Regions from separate parts of the Homo sapiens genome. Here region 2 is linked to region 1. Evidence: fine-mapped expression QTL. A gene starts in region 1. The other region holds a variant in brackets. All regions are shown on one strand. Distances are between the middles of the regions.

Region 1 (5,000 bases):
AAAAGGGGTGGAGGGAAAATGGGTTATATTCTAAATTCAGAATATAGAGAAAATTAAATTTGGAGAAAACTAAAAGTCCTAATAACTCAGAGCACAGAGGACTTTTTGGGCAGTTAAACTATTTTGTGAGATTTTATAATGGTGAATACGTATCATTATGCATTTGTCAAAACCCATAGGATGTACAACACCAAGAGTGAACCCTAATGTAAACTATGGATTCTGGATGATACTGATGTGTCAATGTAGTTTCATCCATGGTAACAAATATAACACCTCGTTGCAGGATGTTGATGATGAGGGAGACTGGAGAGGGGAGCGGAGGTCCTAATAACCAAACCTATAACAGTCTATTGCTTTTGATCGAATCTTGATTTCAAGGAGCAGTTGGAGGACAACTGAGGAAGTGTGAATGTGTATTAGATGATAAAGAGGAACTTCTATTAATTGTGTTATGTTGATGACATATACTATGGTTATATAGAAAAGTATCCTGAAATTTTAGAGATGCCTATTTAAGTATTTAAAGGTGAAATATCCTGATATTGGTATTTACCTTAAAATATTTTTTAAAAAGTAAATACGGCAAAATTACTTAAAGTGTTAAGTCTGGGTGTTACAGACTGCATGTCTGCGTCCCCTCAAAGTTCATATATTGAACCCTAACCCCCAAGGGAATGGAATTAAAAGGTGGGCCTTTGGAGATGACTGGATTTAGATGAGGTCACAAGGGTAGAGCCTGCATGATGAACAGGGTGGGACCGTATCTCAAAAAAAAAAAGAGGAAGAGAAGTTTCTATTAGAGCTTGCTCTATCTGCTTTGTGAGGATAGAGGCAGTTTCGCAAACCAAGAAGAGGACCCTCACTAGAATCTGACCATGCCAGCACCTTGATCTTGAACTTCCCAGCCTCCAGAACTGTGAGAAATAAATTTCTGTCATTTAAACCACCCAGTCTACTGCACTTTATATGGCAGTCCAAGCAGACTAAGACATTAGATAATGCATATACAGGTATTCCTTAATAGAACTAAAGAGAGTAACTGTATCAATATTAGTATGAGTCCTACCTAAAATACCTCTTCCTTCACTTGCAGAAACACTGGATTAGATTATTCCAATTGCCTCAGTGTTCTTCCACCCTTACCCAATCCAGTCCAATCTCCGGAGAAAAATATGATCACATCACTAGCCTGCACAGCATTCAATCAACCACCTCTTTAATGGGGAAAAGTGTAAATTCCATAGTGTAGCCATATAAGGCTTTTCGAGATCTGCCCAGACTCCTTGAGCCACTCTATATATACTTCACTCATTTAAAACTCAGCGACAATCCTACAAGTAGGTGAAATTATTATTCCCTCTTTACAGATAAGTAAAGGGGAATATAAGTAAATAACTTGCCCAAGACCACACGGTTGGTAAGTGGCCCTGCTTGACTTTAAATTTTGACAGTCTGATATATCCATAAACCAGATAAATCCATAATTTTAACCACAATATTATTCTGTGCCCGGTACAGTGTAGGTGCTCAATAAATGCTTGCTAGATGAGTAGTGTGGAAGAGCTTAGCTCTCCTTTTTCACCTGATCCCAAAAGAGGAGTGAATCCTAACCACCCTGTTTCTCTTAAGAGTCAAGTCAAGTAAGAGCTGATGACTGTTACTGGCATTGCCCGGGCGTCTAGTATTGCAGTATCCCCGCCCCTGTGAGGGGTGCAAAACCTTTTCTGATTTCATTTCTTTGGTGGTGGGGATCGGACTGGGGAGGAATGAGGGGTCGCAGAACACAGGCTGCCCGCTGGGCCCGGGGGCTGCGGGGAGGGACGGCTCTCGTGCGCTGAGTAGTTGACTCGCCCACTGCAGACCTCAGAAGCCTCACGACCCGGACCCCGGGAGCCCCAGCCCCGCGCCCTCAGCCCCGCGTCCAGGACCTGATCCTGGATTGCCAGGGGCCCTCCTGGGAAGACGGGGCCACTCCGGGCCCACTCACCTCGTCCCGGCACTGCTTCTGGCACATCTGGCAATACCAGCGTAGCTTCTGCAGCCCCTTGGACTTGATCCTGTTGGCGATAGCCTTGGGAGTAAGAAAATCCGACTTCCCCATGGCGACCACGGCAGCGATCACTTTCTGGACCCCAGTACTCAGCCAGCCGGAAACGGAACCGGGCTGGCGGCGGTGGGCGGGACAAATCCCAGCTGAGAGGCGGAAGGAGGTGGGGCCTGGGAAGACTGGGTTGCAACGGTCGCGAGACTCCCCTCGCCGTAGCGCGAAGAAACGAGACTGAAGAAGAGAGCAAGGTGGGAGGGGCGCGCTGGGGAGCTTCGGCGCATGCGCGCTGAGGCCTGCCTGACCGACCTTCAGCAGGGCTGTGGCTACCATGTTCTCTCGCGCGGGTGTCGCTGGGCTGTCGGCCTGGACCTTGCAGCCGCAATGGTATGGCAGCTTGCGGGAAGATCGGCAGGACCGCAAGGGATGGAAGAGCTTGGGCACGGGGCAGGGAGGAGGAGATGGGCGCGGGGGCAGATGTGGGGTCGCAGGGCCTAGCTGGGCCCCTGGCCCGTCGGAGGCGCCGGGTAGCGGGGGCTGCAGGAAGCGGCTCTGAGGTCGGGCAAGGTGTGCGCAGGGCCGGGCTCCGGCGGAGCAAGGTCCCGCCCGGTTCCCTGAGGTCGGAGGGCCACCTGGGACCTCGGGACTGCGGCCTGAGTCCAAATTGACGTCTGGGCGGTCTTGAGTTCCCTCAGCTAATCAGCACTTCCTGAGCTTCCACTTCCACTGCAAGCCAGGCCCCCAGTCTCAGGGCCTGCAAGGTGACGGGAGCCTGAGCAATAGCCCAGGGGAAGGTTAAGTCGTGCTTTTTGTCCTTGACGCCCTTTGAAACCCTGTAGTGCTGGACAGAGTGACCCTTTAAGATTCGATCGAGTCAGAGAGCGCGGCCGTCGAGCACCTCCCGTGTTGCAGACGCTTTGCTGGGTGCTGCAACAGCAAAGGCGAACATCCTAGATGCCTCTGAGGGTGGTTTTGGTGCAGAAGGGACCGTACAGATCTGTCTGAGGGCGGGGAAGGGAAGGACACCTAGCACTACCTTGAAACCACTTGCTGAAACCGTAACCCTGCAAGGTCATGAAATTGCCCCCAGGTCCTGGGGGAGGAGTTCGGTGGGCTTTTAAGTGGCATTTGTTAACTGACATGCAACTAAAGGGTGCCACGAGCCTCGAGAATTTTAAACATTAGTTCCGGGTAGGGGGACCTGGGCTGGGGGAAGTGCATATTAGAAGGCCCGGGAATGGGCAGGTAAAAGTTGGTTTGTGGGTGGTGCTGTTCAGTTTTGAAGCTTGACGGAATCTGGAAGAATTCCAGACACGCTGCTAAGGGGATTCTAGGCTGTGTCGTAGCAATTCCCTGCTCTTAACAGTGTGGAGGATTTCTAAGGCGCTACAGTGCTAAACTAGATTTTCGTATCCTAATTTATATGAAGGGACCATAAAGCATTAGTTGAAATAAATAGGTTTTTCATTAAGCAAATAACTGATAGTAATATACGAGATTTTCAGAATGATATCTGATGTGAATTAGCCACATAAAATTTTTGGTGGCTTGGCCTTGGAAGTCAGATTTTTTTTTCTCTAATATGGAAAAAGAACATTCATGGGAATTAAAAGGTCACTGTAGTTGAATTCTCAGTTGTATAGATTGTCCCACTTGTTAACCACTCAGCAGACATTAGCTGAGTGCTTCCACTCCACCCGGTGGTACTTGGAAAGTGCCCAAATGTGATGGTGAGCAAATAGATAAGGTCTCAGTCAGTTTCCTGGGACAGTGCCTGGCATGCAGTGGTGCTCTGCGAACATCAGCTCTCCTGGCCTTACCTTCTTGCCACGCATTAATGTTATCTGTCAGTATTTTTACAACCTTAGTTTCTAAGTTGATCTTTAAAAAAGTGGAAATAGTTTCTGAAACAAAGACAATATTTTACAAAAAATTTTAGAAATATCTTTTTTTAAAGCACCTGTAAGATAATTTGAAGCTCTTTTAGTGAAGGATTGTTTTAAATAAGAGCTCTCAGTTCAAGACAACTACTGTTAGGAGCTTAAATCGGAACCACAATCAGCATATAAAGGTCCTAATCCTGACCTTAATCCCTTTGGAATATTGGTTTTATAAATCATCAATCAACAGTGTTCCACTATGAAAGCATATTCTGTCTTCTTCTTTTCATGTATTCCTTCACTGCTGGTGCTTAATGTCTTTCCTTCCTCTTCTGCCATTTCTCTTTCCATGAATTATAATTGCCTTTTGAATTCAGAAATTAAAACCACTCCACAGAATTAATTTGGAAGGGGAAGAAAAGACCTTTGTCTTAACGAACCATGAAGAGGCATATTTCCATGCTTCTGTCTTGATTACTGGAAGTTTTTTAAAGTACAATTTGTTATTTTAGTTTTTGTTTTCAGAGAGGCTACCATGCTAACATAAAAACATTAGGCTTACTTAAATTCACAGTGGTTATTTTAATAGTTGTTAGGGTATCGGCAAAATACTCTAACGTTTTGAAAATTAAACCTTTTTTTTAAAGCAGCATATAAGAAAATGGAAATTAAAAATTTGAGAGAAAGAATCCCGGATTTTACTGTCTTCAAATTTGGGAAAAACATTTCTATTTCTTAGAGTTCAGTAGTCTCTAAAATGGAACTGTTTTTTAATAACGTGTCAGTAGTCATAAACTACAGATACCGATAAGGAGATGGCATTTCAGGAGAGAAAAGACAAATTGTCATCTGAGACCATGAGGGCAGATATTTACTAATAAATGTAAAAAATGTGAGGCAGCAGAGTGTAGTACTGTATGAAGAGAGAGACTCTGTAGCCAGCCCTGAAGGGCTGCATTCAGACGGCAGGGATTGAATTCTGATTGCCACTTAGCAGCTCTGTGACCTTGGGCAGGTTACTCAGTGTCTGTCCCACCAGTTCCTCATCTGTCAAATATATGCAATAAAAGTGC
Region 2 (5,000 bases), 30 kb before region 1:
TGTTTTAAAATCAGACAGTGGTGATGGCTGCACAATTCTGCAAAAATACTAAAAACCACTGAATTGTATGTATATTTTAAATGAGTGAACTGTATGGTATATGAATTATTACCACAATAAAGCTGCTTCTATATTTATAGTTTGACATTTAAAATTTAGTCACACTTAGAGTTCAACTTTACTACTCTACTACTGAAAATATAGAGTGTATGAAGGATTTCCTCCAATTACATGATTCTAAATTGTCATAGATAAAACACTTTATAATAACATTCTTTAATGAAGATATAAACTCATCAAGTAAATTACAAAGGAAACAAAAATAACAAGGACAAAATTACATAGTTTGATACCTCATGAGACATAATTAAATTCTTCTCAAAGTTTAGCTGAACAACTATACAGTAATATTTTCAAAAACCTGTTTGTTTTATACAAAAGAATATACCCTAACACAGTAGAGTCTCATAATGCCTTGGCGAACACCAATTTGATGCTTTAAGATTTTAATGTATTGTTAACAAATTTTCAAACTCAGGCAAGTTTAGAAATGTCTTCATATTGAATTCCTTCAACTCTGCGTCCTTTTAAAGGGCCCTACAAATTAAAATAATTTAAAATAAGGTTAAAAACACATATTCCTAAAAGACAAAAAAATGACACCATACTTATGGATACAAATTTGCCTTTTCCGCATCCCTAAAATACCATTAAGATTGTTAACATTTGTATACATCTATGAATTTTAAGAATAATCTATGGCATTCTCATTAAGAACTACCATATTTTCTTCTGTGACATCTGACATACGTTATCAATAGACATTGTGGCAGAGACCTGCAAGCTGTTCAGTATCTCCTCTGCTTCCTGGATAAATAGCCAGTTTCCTGGCTCCCTTGTGGTTAGCTGTGGCCATGCATGGAGCTCCAGCCCATGAAAGCAAACAGAAGTGACGGTCCAGACGTGCTATAACTGACACACAATCTGCCAAGCTCCTTTTGCCTGCCCAGTGCACACAGACATGGCAACTGGAGATGCCACTTGAGGGCAGTAGAGGCACTAGCTGGAAGGACCCTGGGTTCACAAATCGCCACTTAGAAAGAGTTCCCTGATCAAAAATACCCATTTGGGGTTTTTAGAGTGAAACGTTAACTTCTACCATGTTTGTGCCATTGTCCATTTGGGGTTTTCTTTTTTTTATAGGAAATATCATTTTGTAAGCATTACGATACTCAAACATGTTTGTCTAGGTTGGCTGTGATAGTTACACTGGTCCAGATTATAAAAAGAGTCCAACTTTAACTTTATTTTCTTCTTTCATATCGAACAAAAAGGGAAAGAGGAAAACTTAATTAATGAAAGATATTTTCTATCACAAAAGCGGATATAACCTGGGAACACAGAGGCTAAGAATATGGGCTGTGAACCTACACTCCCCAAGTTCAAATCTCACTTTCAACAATTGATTTAACCTCTCTGTCCTTCAGTTTCCTCTCTGTGCCTTATTATCTCCCAGTGGAAATAATGGTAATGTCTGTATGATTGGGTTGTTGGGAAATATAAATGAGTTATTTCATATAAAGTGACTAGACCTGGAACTTAATATGAGTGAGAGCTCAATAATTTTCAACTCTAATTATTATTTAATCTTTTGTTTAAAATTTGAGAGTTGGGTCGGGCGCAGTGCTCACATCTGTAATCCCAGCACTTTGGGAGGCCGAGGCAGGTGGATCACCTGAGGTCAGGAGTTTGAGACCAGCCTGACCAACATAGTGAAACCCTATCTCTACTAAAAATATAAAAATTAGCTGGGCATGGTGGCACACACCTGTAATCCCAGCTACTTGGGAGGCTGGAGCAGAAGAATTTCTTGAACCCGGAGGCAGAGGTTGCAGTGAGCTGAGATCGCGCCATTGCACTCCAGCCTGGGCGACAGAGTGAGACTCTGTCTTGAAAATAAATAATAAAATAAAATAAAAT[T/A]AAATTAAATAAAATTAAAATTAAATTTGACAGTTAATCCTCTCCCTTGCAAAATATAACATGATGATGATGACAATAATGATGATGACAATGATGATGACTCTAACCCTAGAACTGAGATTTTAACATTTTTTTACTGCTTCCCTTCACAACAAATAATTATCATATTTAAAGGAATTAAGTTCCCAGATAAAGTATAACCTAGGTTAGATTTTTCATTATCATGTTTAATGGTCTATGGTCAATTACATTTTTCTGATAAGTACCATAAATCTGGAGAATAAGAAGGGAGCCAGACATTTGGGCTTATAGGGCAAATAGCTAAAAAGCTGAAGCTATTTAGGAACAATTTATTGGATGTTAAAAATCTGCTTGATATATGTATAAATTTCAAATATTATCAACGACATGAAAACTTAAGGTGCCAGAAATGATAAAAATAACCACTTGCAAAGCTCAAGTGATGACACAAGCATATACAGAGATTTTTTTTTTTTTTTTAATGAGGACAGGCTGAAGAAAGGAAGAAAAAAAAATTAGGAGACAGATTCCCTTTTTTTTTTTTTTTGAGACGGAGTCTCGCTGTCACCCAGGCCGGAGTAAGTGGCGCAATCTTGGCTCACTGCAATCTCTGCCTCCCAGGTTCAAGCGATTCTCCTGCCTCAGTCTCCCGAGCTGGGACTTCAGGCATTTGCCACCGCGCCCAGCTAATTTTTGTATTTTTAGTGGAGATGGGGTTTCTCCATGTTGGCCGGGCTGGTCTCGAACTCCTGACCTCAGGTGATTCGTCCGCCTCAGCCTCCCAAAGTGCTGGAATTACAGGCATGAGCCACCATGCCAAGCTGGTAGATTCCCTCTTCTAAAAGAAGTACATGTTGCTTTGCAATCAAACAGAAAGGCTTTTCATGTGGATTTGCTGCTAAGTTCTACCTCAGTACAGAAGATGAAACTGGGTCTACAGTGCAGAAGGTGAGAAATTAGTTTTTGATGAATGGACACAACCTGCGAACCAAAGGTATCGAGATGGAACTCAACACAGCCTCAACAGTAATCAGTTGTTTTGTGTTTCCCTGAGATGAAAACATGAAACAGGATCTGCATTTGATAGCACTATGAAATTAATAAGGTAAGTTTCATGCATGGTCCATGCAAAAAAAAAAAAAAAAGAAATTAATAAGGGAAGGATAAGCAAGTTGTCAAGGAAATACTGGATTTTCTACTGCCTTATGCTGATAGAGTCAGAGAAAATCTTATAGAGTTTTTTGTTAAAACTCAATCTGCTAATTTAGTCAGACTGACATGTTCCTCAATGCCAAGTAGGAGTCCTTTTTCCCTTTCTTCCCCTTAGTTTACGTTAGTAACAGTTAGCAAGTAACAGCTTCTAGGTTAGCATTGTCAGGATCAGAAAGAAAAAAAAAAAGGAGAAAAGCTTGATTTACTGAAATGAGAATTCTCTCAAATAAGGACCTAAATGGTTTTTCCAGAAAACCTTCCTAGACACATATTCTCTAACAGGTCCATGGGCTTAGGGGGCCTATAAACTCCCCAAGAGAACAAATAAAATTTGGCAATTATGTGCAATGTTTTGAAGAGTCTAAACTTTCATTAAACTCTCTAAGTGAGCTATTACTCCCAAGCTCCCCCAGAAATACTAAAACTGACTGTACTGGAGATAAAAAATTCTTTTGTTTAGCATCAAAGATATGCAGTGCAGTAGTTCAGAGTTCTAAAAGGAAACTTTCTTTCTGAAGATATCTCAGACCTCACTCACAGACCTGTGAGTGAAATATCAGTTCTAAGTCAATAACCAACTTTATTTATAAGTCAGAGTTCTTTAAATTACTGTATTGATCTCTGCTACCTTAAATCCTTTATGAAAAAAGGGGAGACATTTTAAAAAGTGGTTGACCTCTGTGGTTCCCTCCCTCTTGACAATGACTTTACTTCCCCCACTAACTTTACTATGCCAAATTGAGTTTTATATTCGATATGAGGGGAAAAAAGGATATAAAACTGTACCTATTACACACACTTTCATAAAACACCAAGATTGGAAAGGAACAGACCAAAATATTAATGGGGTTTATTGTTGGGCTGGGGGACTATGATTAATTTTTATAATTATTTATATTAAATTATGTTTTTTGGGGTTTTATGCATGAGTACACATTTCTTTTATAATCAGAAAATAAAATACTTTAGCAATGGCAGAGTCACTGGAGAAAATAAGCTTACAGATTTCCAAATAGGATAGAAGGCTAACAAAAAACTCAAATTCTAAAATAAAGAACAATCCAATTAAAAAAAACTATGGCACATTTTTAAAGCATTTTGAAATTTCTGTCTTTGTGTAAACAAACTTACAGTTTCAATGACGATAGTAGCTGAAAAAGTCTTCTCATTGATGGATTCTAGGGTACCTTCATTTCCTCTGTAGCCTCCATTTAAAACTAGAATTCTTTTTCCTATGATGGAAAAGAATATAAAAATTAATGTGAAGAAATATCTCCACTTTTCTTCTAACTTGTTACAGCAAAATGTACTACACTGAATAAACATAATAAAAAACAAAACCCTTTTTCTTAGAAGTTCTCAATCATTTAAGAAGTGTGTAGTATTTTAGTGCGGTGTATGGATACTTTCACTACTCGAACATTATAAGACTTCTCATTTTTCCCCCAATTATTTGTTAAAGGAATATGTATGTTTTACTTTTAGACTGCAAAGAATATAAGGTACTTGGAGAAAATGTTCAGAGTCCAGAAGTAATCAGAGACAATTTAGCTTACTTTGTCTCTTTGCAAAATTCATAAGATGGTTTGGCAGTTTTACAAAAATTTAAACTTATACCTAACATGTGACTGAGCCATTCTATGTATTTACCCAAGAAAAAAGAAACCAGATATCCACACAAAGCTTTGTACGTATATGTTCACAGCAGTTTTATTTTTAACAGCCAAAAGCTGTAAATAAGCCAAATGTCTATCAACAGATAACTGGATAAACAAACTGGTACAGTA

Which allele goes with the higher level. Positions count from the first base shown, and alleles are read on the strand shown. Sizes are in standard deviations (SD) of each study's normalised expression.
As copies of T replace A in region 2, the expression in subcutaneous fat of the gene that starts at base 2,164 in region 1 goes down (moderate effect, 0.53 SD a copy in TwinsUK).

Evidence for each region.
Region 2: its variant is fine-mapped to the expression of KIN in subcutaneous fat (TwinsUK, PIP 0.95).

What each region holds. Positions count from the first base shown.
Region 1 is chr10:7,785,830-7,790,829 of GRCh38, forward strand. It overlaps KIN (Kin17 DNA and RNA binding protein), which reads right to left and starts at 2,164. Exons shown (of 13, transcript NM_012311.4): 1 at 1,991-2,164. The coding sequence starts at 2,104. ATP5F1C (ATP synthase F1 subunit gamma) reads left to right here and starts at 2,348. Exons shown (of 10, transcript NM_001001973.3): 1 at 2,348-2,434. The coding sequence starts at 2,379. RefSeq lists enhancers at 2,117-2,436, 2,889-3,432.
Region 2 is chr10:7,755,546-7,760,545 of GRCh38, forward strand. KIN (Kin17 DNA and RNA binding protein) reads right to left here. Exons shown (of 13, transcript NM_012311.4): 12 at 4,345-4,445; 13 at 1-597. The coding sequence ends at 535. Among named protein-coding and RNA genes, the nearest start is that of KIN, 30 kb to the right of the region's middle. The variant T/A (reference allele first, on the strand shown) is at 1,981.